7 linked regions of the Homo sapiens genome follow. The protein of the gene in region 5 interacts with the protein of the main gene of each other region in a pairwise test. Each region holds a gene or a part of one and is shown on either strand. Other genes may lie near its edges.

Evidence for each region.
Region 1: the proteins of HMG20A (region 5) and CFAP53 interact in binary tests that used the Homo sapiens proteins (3 or more experiments, as listed by UniProt).
Region 2: the proteins of HMG20A (region 5) and CCDC136 interact in binary tests that used the Homo sapiens proteins (3 or more experiments, as listed by UniProt).
Region 3: the proteins of HMG20A (region 5) and PTH2R interact in binary tests that used the Homo sapiens proteins (3 or more experiments, as listed by UniProt).
Region 4: the proteins of HMG20A (region 5) and ADD1 interact in binary tests that used the Homo sapiens proteins (3 or more experiments, as listed by UniProt).
Region 6: the proteins of HMG20A (region 5) and SLC30A8 interact in binary tests that used the Homo sapiens proteins (3 or more experiments, as listed by UniProt).
Region 7: the proteins of HMG20A (region 5) and TBC1D22B interact in binary tests that used the Homo sapiens proteins (3 or more experiments, as listed by UniProt).

The regions. Positions count from the first base shown.
Region 1 is NC_000018.10:50,248,782-50,253,264, reverse strand, and holds part of CFAP53 (cilia- and flagella-associated protein 53), read left to right. Parts: intron 1-1,480; coding exon 1,481-1,784; intron 1,785-2,288; coding exon 2,289-2,507; intron 2,508-4,483. UniProt on the Homo sapiens protein: Microtubule inner protein (MIP) part of the dynein-decorated doublet microtubules (DMTs) in cilia axoneme, which is required for motile cilia beating.
Region 2 is NC_000007.14:128,805,005-128,809,487, forward strand, and holds part of CCDC136 (coiled-coil domain-containing protein 136), read left to right. Parts: intron 1-354; coding exon 355-520; intron 521-756; coding exon 757-897; intron 898-1,232; coding exon 1,233-1,391; intron 1,392-1,683; coding exon 1,684-1,854; intron 1,855-2,355; coding exon 2,356-2,541; intron 2,542-3,531; exon of another isoform or gene 3,532-3,760; intron 3,761-4,445; coding exon 4,446-4,483. UniProt on the Homo sapiens protein: May play a role in acrosome formation in spermatogenesis and in fertilization.
Region 3 is NC_000002.12:208,440,309-208,444,791, reverse strand, and holds part of PTH2R (parathyroid hormone 2 receptor isoform 1 precursor), read right to left. Parts: intron 2,429-4,483; coding exon 2,331-2,428; intron 1,445-2,330; coding exon 1,255-1,444; intron 59-1,254; coding exon 1-58. UniProt on the Homo sapiens protein: This is a specific receptor for parathyroid hormone. The activity of this receptor is mediated by G proteins which activate adenylyl cyclase. PTH2R may be responsible for PTH effects in a number of physiological systems.
Region 4 is NC_000004.12:2,923,148-2,927,489, reverse strand, and holds part of ADD1 (alpha-adducin), read right to left. Parts: intron 1,477-4,342; coding exon 1,378-1,476; intron 849-1,377; coding exon of another isoform or gene 815-848; intron 1-814. UniProt on the Homo sapiens protein: Membrane-cytoskeleton-associated protein that promotes the assembly of the spectrin-actin network. Binds to calmodulin.
Region 5 is NC_000015.10:77,472,602-77,477,084, forward strand, and holds part of HMG20A (high mobility group protein 20A), read left to right. Parts: intron 1-4,483. UniProt on the Homo sapiens protein: Plays a role in neuronal differentiation as chromatin-associated protein. Acts as inhibitor of HMG20B. Overcomes the repressive effects of the neuronal silencer REST and induces the activation of neuronal-specific genes.
Region 6 is NC_000008.11:117,155,069-117,159,551, reverse strand, and holds part of SLC30A8 (proton-coupled zinc antiporter SLC30A8), read right to left. Parts: intron 1,862-4,483; coding exon 1,708-1,861; intron 1-1,707. UniProt on the Homo sapiens protein: Proton-coupled zinc ion antiporter mediating the entry of zinc into the lumen of pancreatic beta cell secretory granules, thereby regulating insulin secretion.
Region 7 is NC_000006.12:37,274,062-37,278,544, reverse strand, and holds part of TBC1D22B (TBC1 domain family member 22B), read right to left. Parts: intron 1-4,483. UniProt on the Homo sapiens protein: May act as a GTPase-activating protein for Rab family protein(s).

The sequences.
Region 1 (4,483 bases), on a different chromosome or scaffold from region 5:
GCGGGTGGATCACAAGGTCAGGAGATCAAGACCATCCTGGGTAACACGGTGAAACCCCGTCTCCACTAAAAATACAAAAAATTCTCCAGGCGTGGTGGTGGGCGCCTGTGGTCCCAGCTACTCCGGAGGCTGAGGCCGGGGAATGGCGTGAGCCCGGGAGGCAGAGCTTGCAGTGAGCCGAGATCGTGCCACTGCACTCCAGCCTGGGCGACAGAGCGAGACTCCGTCTCAAAAAAAAAAAAAAAAGAAACAGGGTCTTACTGACCTAGAGTGCAGGTTAGAACGCATTGGTATGGTCCTAGCTCACTGCAGCCTCAAACTCCTGAGTTCAAGTGGTCTTCTTGCCTCAGTCTCCCAAGTAGCTAGGACTACAGGCGTGTGCCAGCATGCCTAGCTAATTTTTTAAAAACTTTTGTAGAGACAAGGTCTCACTGTGTTTCCCAGGCTAGTCCTAGTCTCCAGCGATCCTCCTGCCTTGGCCTCCCAAAGTGTTGGGATTACAGATATGAGTCACCATGCCTGGCCAGATATCCTATCTAGCTATAGTGAGCATCTCAGCCTGGTGTAGTGGCTCATGCCTGTAATCCCAGCATTTTGGAAGGCTGAGGCAGGAGGGTCACTTCAGACTAGGATTTTGAGACCAGCCCTGGCAACATAGCAAGACCCTGTCTCTACAAAAATAAAAATTTTTTAATTAGCCAGACACGGTGACATGTGCTTATAGTCTCAGCTACTTGGGAGGCTAAGGTGGGAGGATCACTTGAGGCCAGGAGTTCAAGGATGCAGTGAGCCATGATCACGCCACTGCATTCCAGCCTGAGCGACAGAGTGAGACCTTGTCTCTTAAAAAAAAAAGTGAGCAGCTGGGTACGGTGGCTCACGCCTCTAATCCCAGCACTTTGGGAGGCTGAGGTGGGCGGATCACAAGATCAGGAGATCAAGACCATCCTGGCTAACACGGTGAAACCCCGTCTCTACTAAAAATACAAAAAAATTAGCCAGGCGTGGTGGTGGTCACCTGTAGTCCCAGCTACTCAGAAGGCTGAGGCAGGAGAATGGCATGAACCCGAGAGGTAGAGCTTACAGTGAGGTGAGATGGTGCCACCGCACGCCAGCCTGGGCAACAGAGCGAGACTCTGTCTCAAAAAAAAAAAGAAAAAAAGTAAGCAACCCTAAATTAGGGGTTCTCAAAGTCAAGTGAATAGGTCAGTCATTGGGGTTAACAGGTTGAGTTTTTGATCTGAGATCACACAGGAAATGGAGTCAGGGCTGCCTTTGCTTTACTCCAGTTTTCATAGTCAGGCTGTGCCATCCTGGTGCTTGCCCTCCCTGCTGCTCCCTCTTGTTTCCTGTGCTCCGATGGCCTGCATCCAGGTCTCTGATTTTTCTTGCTTCATTGTGTGATTGTACAGATGTGTGCCTCAATAGAGCAGTGCCTCACGAAAGGCTGGGTTTTGTCTTTTTAAAATTTTCCTTTCAGGGAACGCTGTGAGGAGCTCCGTGTTGAATTGTTATCTATCCATCAGAAGAAGGTGTGTGAGGAGCGGAAAGCACAGATTGCATTTAATGAGGAGCTGAGCAGGCAAAAGCTGGTGGAAGAGCAGATGTTCTCCAAACTCTGGGAGGAAGACCGATTAGCCAAGGAAAAGCGAGAAGCCCAAGAGGCGAGGAGACAGAAAGAGCTGATGGAGAACACACGCCTGGGGCTGAATGCCCAGATCACCAGCATCAAGGCACAAAGGCAGGCGACACAGCTGCTGAAGGAAGAGGAGGCACGCCTTGTGGTGGGCCTTTAAAATGCTTGTTAGAGGGTGATCAACGCCATGGGTGTAGTACAGTTTGCAGGCCTGTTACAGTACAGTTTGTCTGATGGCCTGGGCTAGTTCACAGGCACATTTCCATTTTTGGACTCTTAGTGCTGTTTAATAATGTATCCAAATGTGTGGTGCAGAGTTCATAGAAGGGTCAAGTGTGGAAGGCCAACGCACCCACAGGTGGAGAATGGTGGTGGATGATGGGTACTGGGATTAAAAGTAGTTTCTGTTTATACTTTTCTGTTTTCAACTCTACAACTATTTATTACATTATAATCACACATGCCCAGGCAATTTTCACAGTTTTATTGCTGACTCAGCTACGAAAAGGAAGGTTTTCTTTCTTACAGCCTCTCTAAATCCAGGTGTGTGTGTATTTCCAGAAATCCTTTATTCCCATCTCTGAAGTCAAATGCACTAACTTGTCTTGTCCAACTGTACTGATGCATTATCTTTATTATGATTCTACCTTAGGAAAGTAACAACGCACAGATTAAACATGAGAATGAACAGGATATGCTAAAGAAACAGAAGGCAAAGCAGGAAACTAGGACCATTTTGCAAAAAGCCCTACAAGAGAGGATAGAACATATTCAGCAGGAATACAGAGACGAACAGGACTTGAACATGAAGCTCGTGCAAAGGGCCCTTCAAGACTTACAGGAAGAGGCAGATAAAAAGAAACAAAAAAGAGTAAGACATTTTTTTGGTGCCTGCTACCTGCTGGAAGGGATTCCTTACTGAGTTCTCAGTCTTGTGGAAGATGGCTTCAAATATATAGCAGTGCTACTCTGAGTGTGGTCCACAAGCCAACAGCATCAGCACCATCTGGGAAAATGTTAGAAACAGAAATTCCCAGGCTCCAGAATCAGGATCTCCCAATCAAAATCATGACAGGGGCAGGAAATCTGTGTTTCAGCACACTCCCCCAGGTGATTCTGATGCTAACTAAAGTTTGAGAACTCCTGGAATTTGAGAAAGACATTACTCAGAAAGTGACATTTGAGTTGGACCTTAAAGGATATGTAAAGTTTTGTCAGGCAAAAAGAGAAGGGAAAGGCATTCAGTATTGAGTTAACTACCTATACGTTTGGAATTTGGATTGAACTTTTAAGAGTGTTTTGTTTCTCCCACAAGTGCTTTTTCTTGTTTTTACCTGGTTCTTAGTGTGCATGTACTTTGATTTTTAATTAAACTTCTCTCTCTCTCTCTCTTTTTTTTTTTTTTTTTTGAGACAGGGGTCTCACGCTGTAACCCAGGCTGGAGTGCAGTGGCATAATCATGGCTCACTGTAGCCTCGCCCTCCTGGGCTCAAGCAATCCTCCCACCTCAGCCTCCCGAGTAGCTGGGACTACAGACATCCACCACCTAGCCTGGCTAATTTATGTATTTTTTGTAGAGACAGGGTTTTGCCAAGTTGCCCAGCCTGGTCTGGAGTGGGCTCAAGTGATCCTCCCACCTCAGCCTCCTAAAGTGCTGGGATTACAGGTGTGAACTACTGTGCCTGGATAAACTTTTCATTTTGATATGATTGTAGATTCACATGCAGTTTTAAGAAATAATACAGAGAGATTCCTTGTACCCTTTACTCTGGTTCCCTCAATGGTAATATCTTGCAAAACTATAGTACCATGCCAGTCAGGATGTTGACATTGATATAATCAAGATACTGAACATCTCATCATCACCAGGATCTTTCATATTGCCCTTTTATAGACACACCTACTTCCCTCTTGCCCCACCCCCTTCTTAACCCTGTTCTTCATTTCTATAATTTTATTATTTTGGGAATGTTATATTAGTAGAATCATATAGTGTGTAATCTTTTCAGATAGCCTTTTTCACTTAGCATAACCCTCAGGAGATTTGTCCAACTTTTTGGATCTATCAATAGTTGTTTCTTTTTCTTTTTCTTTTTTTTTAATTTTTTTTTTTGAGACAGTCTTGCCCTGTCACTCAGGCTGGAGTGCAGTGGTGTGGTCTCAGCTCCCTGCAGCCTCAACTTCCCAGGCTCAACTGATACTTCAGCCTCAACCTCCTGAGTAGTTGGGATTACAGGCACAAGCCACCATGCTCAGCTAGTTTTCTTATTTTTTGTAGAGATGGGGTCTCACTATGCTGCCCAGGCTGGTCTTGAACTCCTGGGCTCAAGTAATCCTCCTGCCTTGGCCTCCCAAAGTGTTGTGTTTACAGGCATGAGCCACTGCACCCAGCCTTCTTTTTATTCTTTTTTTTTTTTTTTTTTTTGAGATAGAATTTTGCTCTTGTTGCCCAGGCTGGAGTGCAGTGGCGTGATCTCGGCTCACTGCAACCTCCGCCTCATGGGTTCAAGCGCTTTTCCTGTCTCAGCCTCCCGAGTAGCTGGGATTACAGGCGGGTGCCACTGCGTCTGGCTAATTTTTGTGTTTTTAGTAGAGACAGCGTTTCGCCACGTTGGCCAGGCTGGTCTCAAACTCCTGACCTCAGGTAATCAACCTGCCTCGGCCTCCCAATTTATTCTTGAGTAGTGTTCATGGTATAGATTTACCACAGTTTGTTTAGCCATTTACCTGTTGAAGGACATTTGAGTTGTTTCCAGGTTATGGCTATTATGAGTAAAGCTGCTATAATCATTTGAGTACAGGTTTTTCTGTGAACACATTCTCACTTTTTTTTTTTTTTTTTTTTAG
Region 2 (4,483 bases), on a different chromosome or scaffold from region 5:
TGGTTTGCTCTGCCCTAAAGTGGATCAGAAGAGATTCTTTTATTGTCTGCATAGACTTGTTTCAGTCTAATGGCAGGCACAATGCTTCCAGATTGGAGTGGGCTTGACTAGGCCTAGCCTCAAAACTAACTGGACTGGCACTCTAAGGGTCTCCCAGAGCCAAACACACCTTTGCAGATTGAGGGGCTGGAGACTTTCTGTAGTCTTTTAAGCATGTTTATCTGAGCGGTGAGTCACAATAGAAGGCCCCTTACTATCTTTGGCCTAAAATGAAGGTATCAGGACAAAGCCTGCATGGCTGGTGATGCCAGGCAGAACTCCCTTCAAGCATAGCTCTGCGGTTCTGAATTGCAGGACACAGAGAGCAACAGAGAGATGGCTGCAGTCCCAAACACTGAGTATGACGTCAGCAGAGTCTCAGACTTCAGAAATGGATTTCTTAGAGCCTGATCCTGAAATGCAGTTGTTACGGCAGCAGCTACGGGATGCTGAAGAGCAGATGCATGGCATGAAGAACAAGGTAGGGCACAGAGGGTGGGGAAGGCAGGCACATTTCTTGTCTTTCTTTCACCTTCTCCCAGCCTGTGGTAGAAACATCTCCATAGGCATCCACTGTGGAGGGAGATAGTACTCTGGGGTCTCACTTGCCTGATGTAAATCTTCCAGTCAAAGAGCGCCATGCTTTCCCCAAGCTTGTTCTTGGAGCATATGTGGTATCTGTAGTAAACAAGCCTCCCTGTTCCATTTCCCACATAGTGTCAGGAATTGTGTTGTGAGTTGGAAGAGCTACAGCATCATCGCCAGGTCAGTGAGGAGGAGCAGAGGCGGCTGCAGAGGGAGCTCAAGTGTGCTCAGAATGAGGTGCTTCGGTTTCAGACCTCCCACAGTGTCACCCAGGTAAACACTGCCCGGGGAGGCATCTGGGGTGGGGGCAGAAGGGCCTCATGGAGGGGCTGCTTCAACCGGGGTGGGCACAGTGAGTATGGCTGTGCTCTGCTGACTCTTGCCCTGCAACTGGGCACAGTCTGCTGGAAACCAACTGTAGAAGTCATATAGCACTGCATTCTAGAAATGGTGGTCATTACTGAGTGTCCATCTCACAGAAGAAACCAAACCCTAGACCTGTGGGAGCTCCTCAAGATGTCTGCATCTGAAAAGGAACCCAACTGATCCGTAGAAAGACCTGCTGTTTCTTGAGAGTAACTGTTCTACTCACATCCTCCCTACCACAGAATGAGGAGCTGAAGTCCAGACTCTGTACCCTGCAGAAAAAATATGATACTAGCCAGGATGAGCAGAACGAGCTCTTGAAGATGCAGCTGCAACTTCAGACTGAGCTCCGGCAGCTCAAAGTCATGAAATCCACACTTGTAGAAAACCAGAGTGAGAAGGTAACAGCAACCAGAGGTGAGGGGACAACTTAGGTGCTAAGGGCATCCTTCTGAGGTTTTGGGGAAGGTGGATAAGAGTAGTGAGTTAAAAATAATTCCAGCAACCACATAGGCAGCACCACAGGTAAAGAACTCCAGCCCTGCTCGAGTACTACATTAGATATGAGGACATTAGGAAGTGAAGGGCAGGAAGAAGCAAATCTTAGACTGTTGGTGTCTTCAAGTGACTCACACAGAAGAGTGAGTGGGTTAAGGAGCCCAAAGGCACTGCCCAAAGCCCCCTCTACCATAGGAGTTACTGTGCCGGCTGCAGAAGCTGCACCTCCAGCACCAGAACGTCACATGTGAGAAGGAAAAGCTGCTGGAACGGCAGCAGCAGCTGCAGGAGGAGCTGCAGTGCCATGAGGCAGAGCTGCAGCACCTCAGGGATACGGTGGCCTCCTTCAAAGAGAGCAATGAGAAGGTAAAAGAAGCTCCTGGTGAGGGAGGATGTAGCCAGGCATCATCTTGTGTGAGGGTGAGAGCACAGAGGACGAGAGGGAATGGTAGGAGTGTGGAGGAGCTGGCAGTGAGGGGGCCAAAGAGGTGCTTAGGAGAAAGGTGACCTCGGGGAGTCACAAGGCTCTCAGCTTCCTTTGATTTTAAATCAGAAAAGCAGCATATAAAAAGGAAGTCCCTTTGCCTCCCCACCTCCCAAAAAAGGAAGCCCCAGAAGGTCTGTGTTTCTTTTTAAATTATTTTTATATTTATTTATTTATTTATTTAACTGGAAAGGCTGCACTGGGAAGGTCTGTGTTTCAAGCCTGTCAGGGACGGGTCCATCTTGGGTATCTATCCCTGGCTGGGATGAAATTGGGGCTGAGAAGGACAAGGGAAGATGGGTCCCCTTAGTCCCCGCCTGGGAGGAGAGAGTCCAGCAGCAGGAGTGCCTGGGATGATGGCCAGGCCTGCCTCCCCTGCCCAGGACACAGAGACGCACGCTCAGCTTCAGGAGATGAAGCAGCTGTACCAGGCCAGCAAGGACGAGCTGGAGCGGCAGAAGCACATGTATGACCAGCTGGAGCAGGACCTCCTGCTCTGCCAGCTGGAGCTGAAAGAGCTCAAGGCCTCCCACCCCATTCCGGAGGACAAAGGAAAGTGTGCTAATAAGGTAATTGTCGTTCAGAGAGGTGACAGCTCCTGGGCACTTGCTCCAGAGAGAAGAGGTACAGAGGCAAAAAGTGAAGGCACCCAACCCAAGGGCTTGATGGCCTTCCTAGGCAGGAAGCAGAGGCAGGGCCACATGCTGCTAACTTCAAAATTGTTTGCCCTGACCTTGACTTTGAGCCAGAGCCACAGCTTAGTAGGATCAATACCTTTGGATCCCAGTCTGAACCCCTGAAAGTTTTACACATGATTCCATGTATGTAGACATTTATACAATGGTATTAGAACTGTAGTGATATCTAGTCATTCTTGGAGGGGAACATATACATGGGCCCATTACACAAATATTATTGTTGGAACTAGAGAAAGGGGCCAGTTTTCTGGGTCAGATTGCAAATGGTCTTATAAAGGGGTACGGTCTTGTGCCCAGAGTGCTGATTGGGCAAGAGAAGGACCTAGGCTCTTCTAGGATTTATTCTGTGACTTTGAAGTAGTTAAATTCTTTTTTTATGAAATGGAGTCTCACTCTGTCGCCCAGGCTGGAGTGTGCAGTGACACGATCTCAGCTCACTGCAGCCTCCGCCTCCTGGGTTCAAGCAATTCTCCTATCTCAGCCTCCCAAGTAGCTGGGACTACAGGCACATGCCATTGTGCCTGGCTAATTTTTGTATTTTTAGTTGAGACCGGGTTTCGCCATGTTGGTCAGGCTGGTCTCGAACTCCTGACCTCAGGTGATCCACCTGCCTCGGCCTCCCAAGGTGCTGGGATTACAGGCATGAGCCGCCATGCCCTGCCAGTAATTAAATTGTGGAAGGTTGAATTGTGCCCTCTTTAAATGGAAGAGAATACTACTCTTAACTCACTTCCTTTTAGCAGTAAATCCTGGTAGTGATAAATAAGGCCTTATTCATTTTTTTTCTTTTCCATAGTGTATAAAATGCAAGCCGTTATCATTTATCCTGTTGAGCACTTTCAGCTCCTGATTACTGATGGGAAATGGAAAGGTGTTGAAGCATGTTGGAGAAGAGGCCCAAGAGTCTCTAACGATGGTGGAGTTGGTCACATTCTGCCAGAAAACTCAGTAGTTCCTGTCCCTGGGGAAAGGCCTTCAGGAGACGGAGGACTGGGAAGGTTATTTGGGCCACCTCAGCAGTCTCTTTGCCTTTCTATATCCAGGCTCACGTTTCCTCCTTTTTCCACTGCTACTCAATTTAGGAGCCCAGGTGATCTGTGACTTGCTCGTCACCTCTTCCCCTAATGGGAAAAATGATGGGAAAGGAGAAGCATGCTGGCAGACAGCACCTGCTTTTTCTCTAGCCGTAAAACAGCATTGAGATCTGTCTGATATTAGAAGATCTGGGTTTTTGGAAATGGGATGATTTAGTCTTCTCAACCCAAATTTACCAATAGCGCATACTTTCTAAAGATTTAAAGAGAGAATTAGGAAAGCAAAAATGGGAAAAATTAGGGTGAAATTAAGTCCTTATTTGTAAGGAGTGTAGTTGCATTAAAAAACAACTGGGGTTAATGAGAATAACAGGAGCTAAGAGTTCCCAACAGGGTGGGAATATGGTGTATAAAGGAAAGGGCCGGAGAAGAGGAAGGGGGAAATGAGAAAGGGGCATCGATAGCATTCCCCATCAAACTGCCCCCAGAAAGGAATGGTGGAAGTTTAGAGCAAGGCCAGCCACCAGTCTAGAGCAACCTGCTCTGAAGGAGCAGCCTGCAGGGGATCCCCAATCGGTATCTAAACAGCCAGAATGCATTGTGGCTTGGGGTGACCAGTCCAAGGTGACTGCACAGGGAGAGGATCACAAGAGGCAGGAGAGCGCAGAAGTGCTCTGTTAGCCACCCAAGAAGCTTACCTTACAGAGTAACCACCCCCTCCACACCCGCCCCCACCCACAGTGTGACACACTGCTGTCCAGACTGACAGAATTGCAGGA
Region 3 (4,483 bases), on a different chromosome or scaffold from region 5:
AATAATAATTTGTAGCCAGGAAGTAAATAAACATCACAACAGCAATCTTGCACCCGATCTATTACAAATAAACCAGAATTTCATCATATTAGAACACTTTGTTGTACTGGATGCCAACATTAGACCACTAAAAAACAAGTCTTCAGTTTCTTTTTCAGGCTAATATGTCTCCTTTACACAGTAAAGTCAAAACTGTTGAGAGGCCAAAACAGTTATTTTAATGCATCATTTTTCAAGACTATGAACTTGATTCTATTTTTAAAATAAGTTTTTTCTTTAAGAAGTTACCAAAAAAATCACCTTTTCTCAATTTTTTCACTTTATAAAAATAATACACGACCATCACAGAAAATTAGGAACATATAGAAAAGTATAAAGAAGAAAATGTTACCCATATTTTTAGCTTGAATTTATTTTATTTTGGTCTTTTATGCAGCTATTGCTGCAAAACAAGCTGCCCCCAAAGTTAGTGACTTATAACAATAAACATTTAACATATCTTAGAAATCTGTGGATGGGCTGGGTAGTTCGGCTGATCTGGGCTAGGCTTGTCTCGGCTAGGCTCACTGAGTAGAGGTCTACTCTCAACTGCTACACTATTGCGTCCACTTCCTTCTGTTGGGGAAAGCAAGTCTCAGTGCCAGCCCAGAATCAGAATCAGCAGGGACTATAAAGTTACAGGGCAAAGGCACAGATCCAGACAGGGTATTAATTCACACCATCAAGACAATCAATCTACTATACCTAATTTCAGATATATTGCTTCAATGATCTAATTGAGTGAATTATTGGATCAATCTATTTACTACCACCAGGACATTCAAGAGCAGAATCAAGTAACATAAAATTTTATATTGGAACAAGTCTTCGAGTACTCAATAAAGGGACTAAATATCATGGGCTTTTAAATTGCAAGCTTCTGGTTTTGCTGATGGGATTTTTACTTTCGAAAGTGGTGAGCCCCATGACAGTTGCTGTGGTGCCTATGCCAAATACCATTCCAATCTTGTGCATTTTGCAGTTTCCATTCCAGAATATTCTTGAGGAAAAAACCCAAGAACTTTTAATAAAATGATTGATTAGACATGAAAGGACAGAATTGAGGGAGAAAACATCACTATACAAATTGATAATCCATTTTAGTTAGTTCAGAGATAAGTAAAAGCAAGTTAACATGTTTAGTGGACTGTAAAATTGTACTTATTTGTAGTGTTATACAAATTAGTAATGAGAGAAAATGGTGAAAACACTTACATATTGTGATTTGTCCACAGAAGTTGCCTCAATGGAATTTTGTGGGTCATCCTGCATTATTAGGGACTCCAGCTCCTTTACTCCTATGTGAGCATGGACTACTCTGTCTTTGACAAAGATGCTTGTAGCTCTCAGCATGAAAGACACAAATAAGTGCATGTGGATATAGTTCCTAGTGCAATGCAATCGTCTACGGAGAGAAATATTCAGTATTTAAATTTGGATAAAATTAAAAATGGGGGAAACACCCAGTGCGACTGCTGCCACCACCAACCAGCCTGCTCCCCTCCAGCAGGGACTGGTTCGAGACTCCACACAAATTCCAAAATCTGCAGATACTCAAGTCCTTTATATGATATAGTGCAGTATTTGCACATAACCTATGTACATCATCTTGTTACTTTAAATCATCCCTAGATTACTTATAATACCAAATACAATGTGAATGCTATGTAAATAGATGTTATACTGTATTGTTTAGAGAAAAATGACCCAAAAAATAAGTATGTAAATGTTCAGTATGAACACAACCAAACTTTTTTTTCTGAGTATTTTCCATCCACAGTCTGTTGAATCTGGGGATGTGAAATCCCAGTATATGAAGGGTGACTGAATTGGTGCTCAAAATTTTGTAATGATTTCGATTAAGTTGAATGGAATTGGACACATGTTAAAGTGGATAAAAAATAAACCATAACAAAAGCAATAAATACTATTTCTTTATGTGCTGGTATCCAATAATTTGGGAGATTATTTAAGATGAATTTTTGTCCAATAGCACCAAAATCTCTCGGGAACTCATTCAATTCGATGCTGTCTTACTTTGCAACAAATATACTTCAGTACATACTTATTGGGTTAAAGGTTTCATACTACTTTGATACTTTAAGTTTTTAAACAAAGAACCCTGAATTTGTCATGAAAAATTAATTGTCAAATAACATAATAACATTAGGCTGAATTCAAAAACTTGCATTTGAGGAAAACATTTGGAAAATATTGTGAGACCGCTATGTCTTCTCTGGATAGGAAAGACAATGTGCCCCTTCATGGAAAAAGTGATGGGCATCACTCACCTGAAGTAACCAATGATGAGAATAGCCACAGCCAAGGAACCAAAAGAGATGGAGTAGCCAACGGTATACATTACATAGAGGCGTTCAAAGAATTCTTGCTGCAAGGGAAGAGATGCTCATGTATGATATGGGACTATTTTACCAATAAACTGGCAAAGAAATAGTATGTCATTTTTGGAATCTTATTTCTAATTCTCTTTAACTTTTTTAAGCTGTAATTTGCATGCAATAAAATGTAGAGATCTGGAGTGAGCATTTTGATAGGTTTTGACAAACCAAGTTCATTTGTGCCCCTTGCTAGTCAAAAAAACACCCACTATCCACCCCCAGGAAATCACTGTTCCAATATCTGTCACCACAAATTAGCTTTCTCTGTTCACATACTTCATATACCTCTTGACTATTCTTAGACTTCTTAGGATTACATGTTACAGTATATACTTTTTTATCAACATACTGTTTTTTATATTCATCGATATCGTTACATGTATAAATAGTTCATTCCTTTTCAATTATTTTGTTTTAAAATAATTATAGATTCAAAAGAAGTAGAAAATAGTGTAAGAAAAGCCCCAGGTTCCCTTCACCCAGTATTCTCCAAAGCTTACATCTTATGTAATTTTACTAAAATATCAAAACCAGAAATTTAATATTGATGCGACACGCATATTTATAGTTCTATGTCATTTGATCATATGTACATTTTTGTAACCATTACTGTAATCAAGTACAGAACTATTTCACCAACACAAAGTTCTCCTTGTTCTGTCCCTTACGGTGACACCTCCTCCTCTCCACCATGCCAAACACCTGGCAACCATTAATCTGTTTTCTGTCTCTATAATTTTGTCATTTCATAAATGTCATATAAGTAGAATTATACAGTATGGGATCTTTTAAGATTGGACAATGGTGTAGAAATGTGATTGGACAAAAAGGATGTAATCTAATACTAATAGACTAAATGGGGAAACTCAACAAGCGTTTTCCATGTTTCAATCAGGCTAATCCAATGAAGCCTCCATAAAAGGGCCAAGAAAATGGGATATAAAGAGCTGCTAGACAGCTGAATTTACGGAGGCTTGCAGGAAGGTGAACCAGAACTCATCCATTTACCAGAAGGGTGGTGCACCCCAACTCCACCGGAACAGAAGCTCCTGCACTTCAGACTCTTCCAGACTTCGCCCTATATGTCTCTTCACCTGGCTGTTTATTTGTATCCTTTAAAATATCCTTTATAATAATATATAGGAAACGTAAGTGTTTCTCTGAGTTATGTGAGCTGTTCTAGCAATTAATCAAGCCTAAAGAGGGGTTCGTGGGAACCCCAACTTGAAGGTGGTTACTCAGAAGTTCAGGGGCCTGGTCTTGCAATTGGCTGCTGCCTTGTGCTCACTGGGAACTATGCATCTCTAGGGGATTTGTCTCAGCTTCCCTGCCCTTCTCCTGGCCTGTGGGCTGCATCAGTCATGCAGTTAGTGAGGGCCCCCTGTGCCTCAAGGGATGCCTCTCAGCTCCTCTGTCCTGATCCATGCCTTCAGCCAACTGCTGCCTTTCACTCTGTGAGAGCCCTGTGCACATCTCAAGGAATTTCTCTGAGCCCTCTGCCTGCCCCAGCCTTTGGCATACTTCCCCCATGCACTCGGTGAAGACCTCACGGCAAAGAATTGCCTGGTGGATTATAGCTTACTAAGACTAGGGCTTACTCCTTGGGATTCTAACTCTTTATGCTAGCCCTTGTCTGCTATTGGTATAAAAGCTTGTCTCTTTTCTCTTTGTCCCCTTCAATAGCCTGTTTTCTCCCCTTCTACTGTGGTCCTAGGGATACACGCAGCCATGGGTCTCTTCTCTCATAGGAAGGGCTTGCCCATTTCTGGAATTTAGTTCATTTAGATTTCTTGGCATCCTCAACTCATGTTTACAAATTATTAATTTTGCATCTAAGCCAACTTATTGTTGCGACTGCCTACAATCTGACTGGAAGCAGGAAGACTTTGCCTCTTGTTTCTTTTAAAAAAAATATTAATTACTTATTATTTTCTCTTAATAAAATAGTAAAACTTTTCATAGAAAATATTTGAATAATGTGTAAAACATAAAAGAGAGGAGAAAAAAAATCTTACAAATTCTAACCAATCAGAAAGAAACACTGT
Region 4 (4,342 bases), on a different chromosome or scaffold from region 5:
GGCCTACAAAGTTACCAGCAACTGACAGGTTAGGCACCACAAGCTGTTTAGTGTTTAAAAATCAAGCCACACATCAGGGCCAGGGGAGTCAGCTGAGTGGTTAGGAGCAGCACAGGAGGCCCAGGCCCCAAACTCTCAGTGCTTTACCTTTGGGAAGCTGGAAGCACCCCCACCCTGCCAGCTGCCCCAGGCTAATTCCAGGCCACGCTTCATGAGAACCGGGAAAGGGCTATGGGCACACAGGCGCCGCTCCCCCTGAGGAGATGGGGCCCGCTCTGCTGGGCATGGTGTGGCTGATGCTAGGACGGAGGCTGCCCCAGGGCACTCGCTCTGGAGAGCTGCCATCATCTGAGTGAACATCACACTGCTTTACGAGGGTCCAATATCCGCTCCTCTGCCCACCTCCTTTGGACCAGCTTCAGCAAAGGTCCAAGGCAATCTGACCCCACACGGCAGGTGGCAGAACCCCACCCTGTCTGAACCGAGGCTGCACTTACATCTGATCCAGTGTGGCAAAACCCTCCCACCAAGCAATCCAAAGAGACCCTCAAAGGCTGGAGGTAGGAACTCCTGAGGCCCAGAGTGCTCCATGGCACCTAGGTGCGTGGAGGTACCCGCTGCCGCTGAAGGCAGCACAGCACTCAGGTGACTGAACCACTTCCAGGAAGGCCTCCAAGGGACTGGGTACAAAAAAGGGGGGCTTCTGTTTTTATTTTAAATAAACAGAAAACAAAACTTAATAAACAACAAAGAAGCAGGAGAATGAGGCAAAGCGCAGGGCACCGGTGGAGAGCGGAGGCAGCACGGTACTTACTAGGGTAACAGGTACTCTCTAGCGCATCCGTCTCCTGCTTGTGACGCAGCCACAGGGAGAAAAAAGCACAAGGAGAGAATCTATGCATTCAGTCACAGCCATCAGGTTACAGAAGAAGAAAGGCAGGGCCACGGGCTTCACGAGAGACATGGATGTACGAGACCGAGGGACAGACACCCGGGATCACACACCACAGACACACGGTGGCTGAGAGGCAGCCGGCGTGTGGCTCACACAGCGGAGGGCACCTCCGAAGGTGGCATCTGCATGACAACACGGCACGAGGAGTGTGCGAGCAATGGGCAACGTGGACACCAGCAACCATGGTGGGTTCCGACCCCCGAGGCCGGCCTTCCTACCTGGTCACAGCTCACATACAAATCTGTTTTGCCTGGAGTTACCCAGGACAGAAGCAATATAGGAGGAGAAAGGTGTCACGTCCTGGCGCTGATGCAAGCACACACTTCCGTGTTGCTGTTAACACGACTCCCGCCACATTCCGCCACAGCGCGCACGAGCCGTGCACCCTCCCACAGTGGCGGCCGCTGCCACCCAGAGCTCACCTTCCTCCAGCTTGATGGGAGTGCTGGGAGGCGGGTGGGGGACCGCAGGCTGGTCTGGAGGACTCTTTTCTTTCTGTTCTCTAGCCTCGTCCAGATTCTCTGCAGAGAAGCAAGAAGGATATGGTAGGAGCTGTGGACGCCACGCCATGAGCCTGTACCTGCCTCCATGGCAGATGGGGCAGCCCGCTCGGCCGCCCTCTGAGAAGGCAGGGCTCTCTCAACCCTTTCCCTGATCCTCTCCAAGAGAGGATAAAGGAAGCTGTGACCTGGGTGTTGACTGATGCGAATTTCAGAGAAACTTAACCAACTTCAGATACAAAACTTATTTCTATTCTTATTCCAAAGAGAGTCTGCCAGAGCCACTTCTGTGATGGACTCGAATGGTATGCCCTGGCCTGTCCCCCGCTGTCCTGTGCGAGTAGGGACCCCTCCCTCCCTGCCTTCTCCCTGCTGAGCAGGTGGCTGAGGGTCCTGAACCCACTCACCACCTTAAGGGACATCACATGAGCATTATTTTGGTTTTAATTCTGTGGTAGGGCATTTTATCCCAATAATTTAAACTTGGCAACTGTAATACGTATTTTTACTTTTTAAAGTGAAAAATGCTAATAAGAACCAGAGGAAAAAATGCAGGAACTAGGATCCTGGATATAGAAAAGGATTCCAAGTCTACTTCTCATTTCGGGGAAAATATGGACCAGCACTATTCTAACTCCTTCCATCTCTGTCTTTATTTCAGAAGTTTAAGATTAATAGCTTAGGATCAGCAGGTCCGTATTTTGAACCAGCAGCTATCATCATCCTTCTGAGCTCCCAGGGCCTCTGCTCCCACCCTAACAGCTGGCTCGCCTCCCCAAGTACCACGTTGGCAGCTACCTTCCAGAAGCCAGGTGTCCATAAAAAGGCCGCCATACCACCTAGCTGAGTGAGCATACAGCCTCAACCGGGAAAAGGTGCTGACCTCTGGCAGCCAGCCTGCATTTTACCTGTGGCACATTCTCCCCTCAGCCCATGCCAAGGGCCAGATCAGACCTCCTGTGGGTTCTCCTGCTGACAGCTCTGTGATCACAGAGCACGGCCAGAGCCTGTCCCCATCCACTCAGCTGCCATCACAGCCCTGCTGAAGGAGCCTCACACATCGGGGGGAAACTCCACATATCTTGTTTGACTTGTTTTTAAAAACAATCCAGGTTACTCAGATCCCAGGAGACTCCAAAGGGCAGACACATGTCTGTGTACATGTGCACAGAAACTAGGAGGAGGCCACATGACCCACAGCTCAAGCTGACTACCTCCAGTTCTCGCTCTAAGGCAGGTAATTACAGCAATGGCTCAGACAAAGCTTCACTGGAGGGAGACAACCAGCAGCAGGGCCTGGTGTGTGTGGCGGCCTGAATAGTAAATAGCGGTGTGACACTGAAAAACAATTCAGCAACTCAAATTTCAGTCACAACTACGTAATGCAGTGGCTGGTCTAGAACGAGACAAAAACCGGTGAAGAGGTCCTCTTAGGAGGAGTGCCTAGCTCCCAGGATGACGACGGCCCAGGAGAGCAACAGTCAGTCCCACACAACAAGGTGGCTCCAGCAAGGCTGACCCCGGAGGACTGAGAAGCACACTGAGGTTTCAGTAAAAACCTGAGTTGGAGCTTACGGCCCTGAGGATGCTGGCGGGAGCCTCCTGGCAGGGGTCCCTGTGCCCCTGGTTCTTCTTGGTGCCAGCACCAAGGCTGCTCAGAGCCTAGTGGACAAGAGAGCTGGCAGCAGGGAGCTTGGGGGAAAAGCAGCTGATGCCCAAAAGCCCTCAAGGAATAGGCTTTGGAGACCTGCTTCTCTCATTAGTTCTCAACATTTCCTTTTCAAAGCCTGACATTTGAAACCACCTGCTCCGTGAGGGTCTCAAACTTGAGCCGCTTATTTGTATTCATTTTAAGACTGCCCCATCTTTGACAAAAACAAGACCGCCTTTGTCAGCGGGCTACCAAGAGAAGTACAGGCTGCACCAGCCATTCCTGATGGGACCTGGGCACATGCCAGGGCAGTCAGCATTTTCACCCTCCGGCCTGTGACCACACCTGCACAGGAAACCCTCAAGGTTTATGGAGAAAGAGAATTTCTGTCAGAAACCCCAAGCCCTACACACAAGCACAGTAAGGACGTTCAGAGCGTCCCCCTGCACAGAGGCCGGGGCTGACTGCTGTGACCAAAGACTCAGTGAGGAAGGCAGTGCGCTTCTGTCCAAATCAGGGCTCGGCCACGCACAACCTCGTTCTCGCGAGCCGCCCTGTCTGAGCTCCCTATTCCTCTGCTCCAGCCGGGGGAAAATGACCTATCTCTCAGGGTTACTTTGAGAATGAGATGAGATGTACGCACAATAGCACTGGGCATGTGCCCGGCACAATGACTGCTCAGCAATGCTGAGTGTTAATGAATCAAACTGAGTAAAGGAGGTCTCTCCCCGGTGAAGCTTCAACAGACAGAAATACTGTGTTCGTAAAGAGACAAATGTCAGGGTGACAGGCAACATGGCCGAATAGGAACAGCTCCGATCTGCAGCTCCCAGTGAGATCAACGCAGAAGGTGGATGATTTCTGCATTTCCAACTGAGGTACCTGGCTCATCTCCCTGGGACTGGTTAGACAGTGGGTGCAGCCCACGGAGGGCGAGCCAAAGCAGGGTGGGGTGTTGCCTCACCCAGGAAGTGCAAGGAGTCGGGGAACTCCCTCATCTAGCCAAGGGAAGCCATGAGGGACTGTGGCTTGAGAAACAGTGCATTCCAGCTCAAATACTACGCTTTTCCCACGGTCTTCGCAATCCACAGACCAGGAAATTCCCTTGGCTGCCCATGACACCAGGACCCTGGGTTTCAAGCACAAAACTGGGCAGCCGTTTCGGCAGACACTGAGCTAGCTGCAGGAGTTTTTTCTGATACCCCAGTGGCGCCTGGAATGCCAGCAAGACAGAAC
Region 5 (4,483 bases):
CTATTCCCTCACTTCACTAGCACATGTTTGTGTACTGGCTTCTTTCCTCCCACTTGGTTCAGCCCCATTGTTAGGATTTAGGCCTGTGTTTCTGTGTGTGTATGGGATTTAGGTGTGTGTGTTGTTTCAAATTCTGTTTTCTCCTTCAAACTTTTCTTGTTTCCTCTAACTTCCTTTAACCCTCATGGCTCTCTATACTTGTGTTATGTGCTTAGCTGATCTGACCTAGGGGTTTTGAGGTAATTCAAGGGCTCACACTCTTTGGTTGTAATGTCTTTGTGGACATACACAGTCTAGTTTCCATCTTTATATCCAACCCCATACCACCTATCATGATACCTTTGCCTTGAGAAGGTATTCCACAAATGATTATTTTATGGAATCTATTCAAAGTTGACCTGAAATAACTGAGAATTTGAACAAAAAGAATTTTCTGATGTACTCTTTTACATGTGTTTGGTTTTTTACTAAATCAAGGAAATGTTGGTTACCTTAAAACATAGAGAAAAGATTCAGATTCACAGGTCAAATAGACGTTATTACCATCTATGAATTATAAAGTGAGAAGCATAGTAAATATTTACATTTTATTCTTCAGATAAATCCTATATAAATGTAATTATATATGACATTCTATGCTCTAATTAGGATGAAATGTTATGTTGTTTTGCTGGAGAAACTTTGTATGTATTCTTTGTATTTTAAATCATAATAATATTGTAAACTTTTCATATTAGCAGACATTTGTATAATTACTTCTCTCTTTCTTTGCCTGTGTGCCCAGCTATCAATATCATGAAATTCCTGTGCTTCTTTTTTTCTCTATTTTATAGCTTCTCTATCCTTAACAGTTACCAAAGAGAATTTGGACAGTAACCTGAAACATTAGATCTCACATTTTCTAGTCAGTCATCTGAATAGGTGTCAGTCATCTGACTCATTTCATCACTATGAATTTTGCTGGCCAAACTATATGTAGCATTTTTGTCTTCAGTAAACTTGATAGTTGCAGTCAGAAAAGATGTAGATTTAGTCTGTATCATAGAACCTGCTGCTGATTATTTGAGAAGTGAAGGTGTTTATTCAGATACATTAGTGTGATATGAATTTCTGTAATTTCTGTGATTTGCAAAAAGAAGTGAGTCTCTGTATTTCCCTGTTACAGGATTAGACACATGTTAAACCAAACAAAAAAAAGGAGTGAGTAGATGGAGAGCCAGCAGTTGTTTCTTAAAAGGTTATACAGTAGGTTCTGTAAATCCATGTGTTGGTATGGCCACAGCAGGATAAAGCTCCTTTAGTAAGCGTGTTGACCCAATTAATGTCCCTTACTTCATCCATTTTTATTTTTCACTGAATAATATGTTTCCTAAATTAGATAATTTTAGAACAATTGCAGTATAAAAGAACTGATTTGAAAGTTTTAAAACTGTTTTTAAACACTGTTACCCAGTAATTTTCTTACATATAACTTCTTAGTATAATAGAAGTTCAGAAAAATAGCACTATGGGTGAAAAGCAGCCGCAGAAGGAGCCCATGGAAAGGAGTAATTGAATCAGGACTTAAAAATGACCTAGGTTTTGTGGGCATCTCAGGGTGGGTAAAATGGCTTGAGCAGAGGTATGAGTAAGTTTTTAATAAAAGAGCAAATATCTTGCAGTGTCTAAAGACCATAGATCCTAAATACATACTTATTTCCCTTTACTTATCCTATGAGGAGTAAAACACTGAGACTCAGTGATCCTCTCAACTGACCACCTCATTTTGCCAGTGAGGAAAGTGACTTGCCTAAGACAGTATATAGAATGGAAAGAATTTACCCAGAATCACTTACTGAATTAAATTAGAGGCAGAATTGTGACAGAAACCCAGGCCTTCTGTGTCATAGTCTAACATTCTTGACAGCACAGTGCCATGCTACATAGCATAAATTACAGCGTTGAAAGTAAAAATGGGCCTCGTTGCCCAAGGTGTCAGCAAAATGTGTTGCCAGTTAAGTAAACTATTTGGTTTGTGTATAGTAAAGAAACCTATTGTATTCCTAAATGAAACTTGGATCCCTAAGTCATTGTTACCAAGGCAGGTACTGGAGAGGGCATATTAGAGCTAAAGAAATGCTGACCTGAAAGCCATTCTGCATAGCAGTGGGGCACTTCAGGCTGGTACACAATGTTAAGAGCATTTCCCAAAGTAAAAGTCTCTTGAGAGAAGCACATATCACACTCTTTGAAATTCTGGCCCTGAGCCTAGATCACAGCAAAATAGGTTCAGTTCAAAAGGGCCTCTTTTCTCTTAACCTCCACTCAATATATAGAATGGAAACCAAAGTGAAGAATATTCTTGCTCCTCTCAAATCGAAAGCCAGCCCACTAGACCCAAGAGTTAGCGAGTATTACTCTCAAGAAAGTGTCTATATCTCATGTGAAAACTAAGATAGAAACAATAATTTTGTTTCTCCTTTAATTTATGAGAAATGACAGAATGACACTCAGCTTGAACAAATTAGACCCTTTCAGTGAAAGGGTAATCAGATCCTTATGATTTTAATCCTTTGAGCTATCCTTGGAGCAGCTTAAGTACACCCAAGCCCCCAGAAGGATCCTCTCCATGCCGTGAAATGTGCTCAGTAATGGAAGAGCGCTGATGGTTTTTATTACCACTCTTCCATTAAGTAGAATTTCTCTGTTACCTTTCAGAGACTGAACAGTTTCATTGAATTGCTTTAATGTTTCTTATTTTGTGCTCTGAGAATCTGTACCAAGGGGCAGTGTGTTAATGCACCTATGTGGTGCTGTCCTCTGCCCTTACATAATTAGCTTGATTTGGACTGCTCTGGCAAAGAAGAGAAAAGATTACCAGTCTGAGGAGAGTCAAGACTTTGGAGGAGAGGGATCTTTGTACCATGGTAATGGGAGCCAAGCGTCTCCACTTTACCCATCTAACTGGCAGATATTGAGACGTATAGCTTAGGTAACTGATCTCATGTAACTGCAGTTAAGTTGGAGATTGAATAAGATAGGATGATAATGTCCTAAGTCTTTATGCTGTCATCTGTGGACTTATGTTTATATCTGTTATGCCTTGTGCATGTTGGGATTGTGTGTCATTAAGTTTTGTTTTCCTGCAGCAGCCCAGTAACAGTTAAAGCATATGGGAAGCCAGCAAATTTGAGAGAAAGCCACTGCGAAATATGGCTAAGATTCCTTCTGGAACCAGCCTTTCTTGTTCATACATTAGTTTCCATTGAAATCCCCTAGGAACTGGCTCGAGGTAGAGCTTTGCATGTTGAAACTTGGGACTTTCGATTGATAATTTTGTTGTTCATTTTCAAATTATTCTGGGAAACTTTGCTTTCTTTTGTTAGGAAGAAAAATACAAGTAGAAATTAAGTGCTCTGAAATTACATAGCTTTTCAGTGTCTTTCTTGCTCAGCTGCCATTGGCAGGTGGTTCACACAGCCCAGCCCCCTTACTAGGCGGCCACCGTTATGAATACAGGAGCTCGGGTGTCAGATTTCCCTCTTAAGCTGTGAACTGCTTAGCTTTTCTACTGGGCACCAAGTCATTTTTGTGTTCAAAGATTTAAAAAACTAGTGGAGGCTGGGCACGGTGGCTCAAGCCTGTAATCCCAGCACTTTGGGAGGCCAAGGCAGGTGGATCACCTGAGGTCAGGAGTTCAAGACCAGCCTGGCCAACATGGCGAAACCCCGTCTCTACTAAAAAAATACAGAAAATTAGCCAGGCATGGTGGTGGGCACCTGTAATCCCAGTGACTTGGGAGGCTGAGGCAGGAGAATTGCTTGAACCTGGGAGACAGAGGTTGCAGTGAGCTGAGATCGTGCCACTGTACTCCACCCTGGGCAACAGAGAGGGACTCCCTCTCAGAAAAAAAAAAAAAAAAAAAAAAAAAAGCTAGTGGTGACAAGAGTAGGAAAGATACATTCTGTCTAGCTTTAAACAATTGTTTATAGGAATGAAATCTAGGTATTATGTTTGCATGTTTTTCATGTTATAAAGGTCCTGGGATCTTAAGATTTCACTAGCAGTTTCTTCATTTCTCACTTCCTGCCATTTTACCACCTTTGTTATGGAAAATTTTGAACATTATGCCAACACACTTAAAATTAATATTCACAATGCTTTCAACTTCAAATTCATTTTAGAAACGACAGCCAAAGCATCTTGAGTTATTGACTTTATTCTTAAAGATCATTGTGGAATATATTTTGCAATGATCTTGTGAGGCTTTTTTATTTTTAATGGCTTATTGGTGAATTAATTTTAGGCTTTGTTATTCTTTTGTATCTCACATAATCGTTTGCTTTCTAATTTTTAGAGCCTGGTTATTTCTGATTTCTCGGTCTCATGTGTTTGTTTGTTTATTTTTCCTGTGTCTAAAGAAAATCTAAAAGACCCCAAAGATAGGCTGCCTCTCTTAAGTAAATAGAAGTACCAATGGAATATCATAATTATTGCTCATAGC
Region 6 (4,483 bases), on a different chromosome or scaffold from region 5:
AGCAGATCAAACACCATTCTTCTAATTATTTAGCTCAGAGATTTTGAGCAATGGTTCACAAACTGAGAGCTGAGTAAGTGAGATGTCAAGGGGCAAGGCTGTTAGAATGACCTGAGGACCTTTTTCAAAGTGTACATGCTCAGCTATTCTTGAATTCCAGAGATGTCATTGTGCCCCCTCTTAAAATCCACTGTTTAAAACTTCATTTTTCGATCACTGTCTTCTCTACCTTCATGTAAAAATCTACCTCATAGCATGTGTCAAGTTGTATTGCAAGATAGATAGGCAGATGATAAATAGGCTGAGTTTCCTATTGCTTCTGTAACAAATAACCATGATGCTTTAGCAGCTTAAAACAACACAAACTTATTATAGTTCTGGAGGTCAGAAATCTAAAGTGGGTCTCTAGGACTGCATCCTTTGTGGAGGTTCTAGAAGGAAATTCATGTTCTTGTCTTTTCTAGCTTCCAGAGGCCACTTGGCTCCAGGCCGATTTCTCCATTTTCAACATCAGAAATACAGCATCTTCTCTCCTCTCTGATCTCCTGTCTCCCTCTTATAAGGACGCTTGTCATTATGTGGACCCACCTGGATAATCAAGGATAATTTCCCATCTTAATATCCTTCATCATATTTGCACAGTTCCTTTTGCCATATGATTTAACATATTCAGAAGTTCCAGGGGTTAGGATGTTTAAAGCTTTTTAGGAGAATGGGTCATTATTCTGTCCACCAACACGATAGCTAGCTAGATCACTAGATAGATAGATGGATGGATGGAGTTTTAAGTAGAGTTGCCCAGAATTAGACCCTCAAATGGGAAGGAGAAATTTGACTCAAAAAAATCAAAGTCCTGGCCTCAAAACCCCATTGCCTGGGCAATCCAGTAGTTCATTTTGGGAAAGGTAGACTCATTTGTCAAGGGACATATGCTCATCTCCTGTAAGAATGATTTAAGACTGCCTAGATAAAAGAATGGACAAGCAGGTTGAAACTTAAGGGAGAATTTAACTAACATAGCATAAGGAAGAATTTTCATGCAGTCACAATGCTGCAAAGATAAAAGAGGCTGTTTTTGAGGGAAATAAATTTCCTTTTATGAGTTCTATTAAAATATATGAAACTAATGACCATTTTATGGAAATGTTGCAAAAGAAAATGCAAAAGTAAAATGGGGACTGAAGTAAATACATTTTAGAGTCCCTTTCCACCCAGCTCACTGGGAAGCCACCATCTGCTCACCCCATAGAAATGGAACAGTAGTAAGTCATGCCCCATGTGGAACCATCAGCATGCCTGAGAGCAGAATGTAAAGCAGCTCAATTCTGGGTCTGCGAATCTGGATTAAAATCCTGGCTCTGTACTACTTAACTGGCAGTGTATTTAACCTCACTGGGCTTTAGTTTCCTAATCTATAACATAGGGGTGTTGTGAACATTAAAGTTGGTAATATATATTCAAACATCCTAACCCTGCCTCTAGCACACCAGAAGCTTTCAAAACATGATAGCTAGCAGAAGCCAATATTAAAAAACACTTTAGCTTAAACGAAAGCAGTCAACCTTATTTTCAATCTTAGAGCCATTCAAACACTCTGTCCAGTCTCTACCATCTTCACATGTACTGAGTTTTTTAAAAGGTCGACTTTGTCCAGATAGTTACAGGAGAGCCTCATGAGCAGTGTGTGGGGACCAGGGGATGACTTACACAATGTTGGCCGCCACTGCGCAGCTGGAAACGATGATCATCACAGTCGCCTGGATCTGGTAATCAGGATACAGCAGGCGCTCACATGCCAGGTACACTAGCACGCCAGTCACCACCCAGATGCACAGGATGGAGAGCAGGGCACCAAGGATCTCTAGGAATTCAAACACACACAGAAACCCACACACAGATAACTCCATCACCTACACCTACACCCCCAAGAGTCATAAGACACTTTGCCACTTCCCCCAAAAAGGCTTCACATTAGTTCATCCAGTGATTCACAAAGTAAAAGTGTGGATGGATTTTAAAACTAAGAGAAAGTATTTTAATGTTGCATTCATAAAACACCAGCATCTGAGTCACTATGTTCCATCTTACTAAGTAATTTTTCAGCAAATTTTTAGAACATATTAATTGCTGCCTGCCCCTACCCCCTGTTTTCCTTGGGGATCTTAATTTAAACAGGTGCTAAAATGATTGAAACTTATTAGGAGGTAAAATAATGAGACACAGAGAGTAAAATGTGTTTAGAAACTCTTAATTTTGCCATAAAAAATTTACGACCTGCCAGTGCCAGCACCTTCAATGGAATAAAATAGTGAAAAGGGAAAGCTTCAGAGAGCACTTGAAGAAAATGAGTTTTATTTGCCAACGCAACATATTATAAACACAGAGGTGAGCTCAGAGGCTGACTAACACTCTGACTGCATTTTAAGAGCAACAGTACGAAAAAGAAGCATCAGAATAGAAGTGTTTACATCAATATGTAAAGATAAAATGGTGTTCAATCTGCCCACTGAGAAAAGTGCATTTGCTCACTTAGGAGTTAACACCTCACTCTGACCTTTAATTCAAACCCATAGATTCTAAAAACCCAGAAAGGTCTAGAAACATTCTGTGAGTCAGTGGTCAGGTACAATCCATCATTTAGTCCTTCCCCACTTTAAGCTAATCCCAGAGATTAGTTCCTTTTAAAGCAGAGTAATGTAATATATTATTACCCATTGTGTGGCAATTATTTCCCAGACTTTAGTCATTTACAGACAACCTTCATAACGTTTTCCAAATCCACATGCTACCTGTCTTATTAACCACTCGATATTTTTTCAAATAAATTCACTTTTTACACTTAGCTTCTTCCTAAACAATGTTATCCATGAAATTACATATTTGATGTGCTAGTTTATTTTGTAATGTGCATCAGGATGTGTAATTATTGTCCATATGACACTTAAAATTATCTGACTAACCAACTGTGGAACATTTCTCACACTATGGGAAATGCTGATGCAGATGTTTAAGGCATGAGCTCAAGTGTCAGACGTATATGGCCTGCCAGTGACTGGCTATGTGACTTTAGACAAGTCACTTAACCTATTTGAGCCTGAATTTTCTTATCTATATGTATTATAATAATAGAATATATGTAAAACAAGTTGCCATAGATTATGGGTTGAATTATGTTCCCCCCAAATTTATATGTTAAAGTACTAATCTTTGGCTGGGTGCGGCGGCTCATGCCTGTAATCCCAGCACTTTGTGAGGCTGAAGCAAGCGGATTGCCTGAGGTCAATAGTTCAAGACCAGTCTGGCCAACACGGTGAAACCCCATCTCTACTAAAAATACAAAAAAAATTAGCCAGACATGGTGATGTGCACCTGTAATCCCAGCTACTCAGGACGTTGAGGCAGGGGAATTGCTTGAACCGGGGAGGTGGAGGTTGCAATGGGCCAAGATTGTGCCACTGCACTCCATCCCGGGCAACAGAGTGAGACTCTGTCTCAAAAAAAAAAAAAGTACTAATCTTCAGTTCCTCAGACTGTGACTTTATTTGGAAATAGGGTCACTGCAGATTAAGTTAGTTAAGATGAGGTCACATTGGAGTAGGATGGGCCCAATATGGCTGGTGTCCTTGTTTAAAGTGGAAACCTGGACATAGACATGCAAATTGGGAAAATGCCATGTAAACATGAAAGCAGAGCTCTATGAGCTAAGGAATGACAAAGTTTCCCAGAAAACCACCAGAAGCTAAGAGAGAGGCCTGGAACTGACTTCCCCTCACAGACCTCAGAAGGAACCAACCCCACTGACGCCCGATTGCAGACTTCTGTTTCTCATAACTGTGAGACAATAAATGTCTGTTGTTTAAACAGAAATGTATTTAAAACCAAGTAATGTAATATATTATTACCCAGTGTATGGCAATTATTTCCCCGACCTCATTCATAGACAACCTTCATAATTTGTTATGAAAATTAATAATGTACCCCCCAAAATACTGTACCCAATTTGTAGTACATTATTAAGGCAGCCCTAGGAACCTAATATAACATATAGCAAACACTCAAGAAATTGTTATTTTATTAGTCTACTCAGGCTACTTACGACTCCCCTTTGCAGAAGTTTATGAGGACCAAGCCCAAGAATTTCTGGTTAGCCGGAAATGGAGGTTGAGTCTGTGGATGTCAGGTAGTGTGCTTCCTATCCATGAAAATCCAAAACAGGGTATGAAAGTGGAGTGTGTCTAACTCAAAACCCATGATTAGGAAGCACAGTGGGAAAAGAGCTGGCGAGGTAAAGCTCAATACCAAGAGCAAGAGTCAGGAGTCAGATCTTAAGACAAAACAAAGAGTCAGAAATCCAAAAGTAACTAGTTAGAACAGGAGGCACATGAGGATCATTGGTAAATGTTACAATGATTGCTTAAAAAAGAAATAAGTTAGCTTAGCTGGGCTCATTGGGCTGGCCAGATTATGGGTGTGTTGCGTATGA
Region 7 (4,483 bases), on a different chromosome or scaffold from region 5:
CTGCCCTCTGCCCTTACCCCACCCCCATTTTAGACATGTAGCATGAGCAGGAAATAAACCTTTACTATGTTAATCCACAGAGATTTGACAGTTGATCTGCTATCACTTAGAGCAGCACATAAACTACTGGCAGAAAACAAGATAATTTTAGGTAGTCCACATATGTAGCATTAAACATTAAGTCCCAAAATAAAAAAGTTGTTCCATTTTTTATTCTGTTAAAAGTTCTTCTGCTGGCCTTGAGAAGAAAGTTGAAGTTTGGTGCTACTCTGTCTTTAAGACCATTTTCTAACTAGGTGCCAAAGTGACGGCAGCCTCAGAATCAATATATTTGCTAGCAACAAGATCTGCCTCTGGATTTAATAAGATTGTTTGGTTTTTCACTGAGTATTTATATGGTTCTTTTCTTTTAAGAGTCAGGGCCTTGCTCTGTCACCCAGGGTGGAGTGATGGAGTGCAGTAGAGAAATCTTGGCTTACTGCAGTCTTGAACTCCTAGGCTCAAGCAATCCTTCCACCTCAGCTTCCTGAGTAGCTGGGACTATAGGCGCACACCACCATGTCTAGCTTTTTTTTTTTTGAGAGATAAGGGTCTCATTATGTTGCTCTCGCTAGTCTCAAACTCCTGGCCTCAAGTGATCCTCTCACCTGAGCCTCCCAAATTGCTGGGATTACAGGCATGAGCCACCACGCCCAGAAGTTCTTCTTATTTATAACAAATGTTGTTTTCTATTTATAGAAATGATAATATTTGTTCTTAAAACAAGACTATTTGAGTGGCCAGGCACAGTGGCTCACGCCCGTAATCCCAGCACTTTGGGAGGTGGAGGCAGATGGATCACTTGAGGTCAGGAGTTTGAGATCAGCCTGGCCAACATGGTGAAACCCCATCTCTACTAAAAAAATACAAAAATTAGCCAGGCATGGTGGCGCATGCCTATAATCCCAGCTACTCGGGAGGCTGAGGGAGGAGAATTGCTTAAACCTGGGAGGTGGAAGTTGCAGTGAGCCAAGATCACACCACTGACTCCAGCCTGGATGACAGTGTGAGTGACACTCCGTCTCAAAAAAAAAAAAAAAAAGAACTATAGGAGACAAGTACCCAAATCAAAGAAAATAAAACTGAGGCTGCACGTTCTGGACTCATCCACCATGGCTGCTTCTCCTTTGTAAAAGGGGACCTGATCTACCACCTGCAGTACCACCTCAGGGGATTCGCTGTCGAGAACAAACATGCAGCTGTGTAAGAAAGATCTGTCATCTAATATAACACCCAGGAGTATGTGGTTATTACTGTTTTTCCTCCTTAGAGGCCACGTGTACATTAAGATTGCATAAATACTGGATGTTCTGAGAATTCTTTAATCAATCATCAAATCAAGAAGTTGAATTTTAACTCAGGTCAAAGAGCTGACTTGAAGCTGGTGGCCTAACACAGGGTGACACACACGCACACCAGGACCGGATGAACACACTACAGGGAGAGACGGGCCAGGCTGCCTGTCAGGTTCTAACAGGTGCTGACTTCTGAGAAAAATGAAGGCCGTTAACCAGCTGAGGGGTGGGTACCAGGGTGTGTGTTGTATTTTTCTTCATACGCTTTTTATGCATTTGAAGGTTTTCGTTTTATATATATATATATTTTTGTTTGTTTTGAAAAGGAGCCTTGCTCTGTCACCCAGGCTGGAGTGCAGTGGTGCGATCTAGGCTCACTGCAACCTCCACCTCCTCGGTTCAGGCGATTCTCTTGCCTCAGCCTCCTGAGTAGCTGGGACTACAGGCACGCACCACCATGCCCAGCTAATCAGGCTGGTCTCAAATTCTTGACCTCAGGTGATCTGCCCTCCTCGGCCTCCCAAAGTGCTGGGATTACAAGTATGAGCCACCATGCCTGACCAGTTTTCATTATATTTTTGAAGCAGATAATGATTCAATATATATTTGAAGTAGATTAAGATTGGAATTTACTCAAATGAAGACTTGCCAATAGAAACTGGGAGGACACTTTCCAACACAATGAAGAAGAAAGAAGGGAGAAAAGGCTGTCATTCCCCATGACATAAAGACATGAGATTCAAGGCAGACCATTTTGAGGCTGCTAGAAATGATTTTAAGGATACCTAGCCCACAAAACCCCAAATTCAACCAACCAATTTAAAAGTCAGCTCTGTCCTGAGGAAAGAGGCTTTCGTGGAGGAAGGGGTTGGTTTCACCTAGAAAAGGGGAAGAGTCTGAGGACAAAACAAGGTTGGTGAGAACCACCCACAAGAATGAAAGAGAAGGCTGGGCATGGTAGCTCATGCCTGTAATCCCAGAACTTTGGGAGGCTGAGACAGGCAGATCACCTGAGGTCAGGAGTTCAAGACCAGCCTGACCAACATAGTGAAACCTCATCTCTACTAAAAATACAAAAATTAGCCAGGTGTGGTGGTGCACACCTGTAATCCCAGCTACTCAGGAGGCTGAGGCAGGAGAATCACTTGAACCCGGAAGGCAGAGGTTACAGTGAGCCATAATTGTGCCACTGCACTCCAGCCTGGGTGATAGAGCAAGACTCCATCTCCAAAAAAAAAAAAAAAGAAAAAAAGAAAAGAATGAAACAGCAAAGCAAGAAGTGAAAGGTACTTTGGGTTACCACTGAGAGAAGGCAGAGAATCCACAGACCAGGAGCAATAAACAATGATGGGTAAATTTAAGGCTTTGAAGCTTTTCCATGTTTACTAGTTATGCTCTCTCCAGAGGAGATACATAAATTCACAAATAAATACATATAAATATTGGCTACTCACTAGCCATATTCATACATATTCATAATATTCATAAATATTGAATACTCACCAGACCCTATGCTAAATTTTAATATATACCCATTTTCTTATCTAATGCCCATTAATAATCCTATGAGGTGGGTATTTTTGTTAGTCCCATTTACAGATGAGGGAACTGAAGCCTACTGAGATCATGAGCAGGCAGTGAGGTCTGGGCTCAAATCCAGGTCTACCTGACTCCTGGGCCAGCATGTGCTACTAACTACTTACTTTACCTTGAAAAAAGCAGCTAAAAAGAAGAAGGTCAGGGCCTAGAAGGATCTGCAGCCTAGGAAGAGAAGTCGCCAAGTAAACCAAGCCACATACCACCACAGCTATAATTCTCCCCAACTATACACAGCCAAAAGCCCAACTCTCACACCCTGTAGGAAAAAAAAAAATCTCAACTTGTAGGAAAAGACTTAGGTCTGACACACATAGCCTATTCTGAGTAGACAGGAAAGAAGCCACATCTAGGCATGGGCTCCTTGTAAGAGAAATGTCACCCCTTTCTGTTGACCCCAGTAGTTGCAGCAAAAAGTTAATCCAGGTAACTCCAGCTGGGGATGCCTTCGGTTTATATACTCCATTTAAACACAGTCCCAGGTAGTTTACACTTAACTCAATGTAAAAGAATGCCACAGTGTGGCTTGAAGTCTAACCAAGATTATTTATTATTATTATTATTAAGATGGATTCTCGCTCTGTCTTCCAGGCTGAAGTGCAGTGGTGCAATCTTGGCTCACTGCAATCTCCGCCTCCGGGTTCAAGCGATTCTCTTGCCTCAGCATCTTGAGTAGCTGGGATTACAGGCGCATGCCACTACGCCCAGCTAATTTTTGTATTTTTAGTAGAGACAGGGTTTCACCAATGTTGGCCAAGATGGTCTTGAACTCCTAACCTCAGGTGATCTGCCCACCTTGGCCTCTCAAAGCGTTGGGATTACAGGCGTGAGCCACCATGCCCCACCCTAACCAAGATTATTTAAACACAACTCTATCAAAGTCACAACCAAACTGGCCTCTGACGAACACCTTCACCATACCTCCTTACAACTGTACGATAAATTATAGTTTAGAAAGCACCTTTGCAGATACCTCATGCAATCCTCACAAATCTGTGAAATGAGTCTTACTATCTCTATTTTATGAATGAAGAAACTAAGGCTTGGAAAGTTTCAGTAATGTGCCCAAGGTCATGGAAATGGTAAGCGGCAAAGAAAAAGAGATTTAAGAAGTGCAGGGAATACTAAAAATTTCAAAAACCTAATAAATGGCACATTTGACTTGGTAAAGTGTTTGGTGATGAGTACCTTAGTAACACAAACACCTAAGGATATGTTGAAAAAGAGTGGCCACAGGTTACACTGGTTAGGAGTACAAAAGATCAAGCATTCTGTAATTTGATCATACTACACTGTCTTACTAATACGGATGTTCTACTTAACAGAATTTTCTAGAAAAATGTTTGACACTGACAAGTGATGTGAAGTGGAGAAATTTAGTAACAATCAAATAAATCCAGATATCTTAGTAACTAGTGTGGCTCCATGTGAACTAGTTTTATAACTTGGAATTAGGACCTAGCATACTTGAGCATCAATTCAAAAAACAATAAACTTAGAAGCTTGTCATACCATCAAGTGGCCAATGCAGCTGCTCAGCAATGAGACTAGCT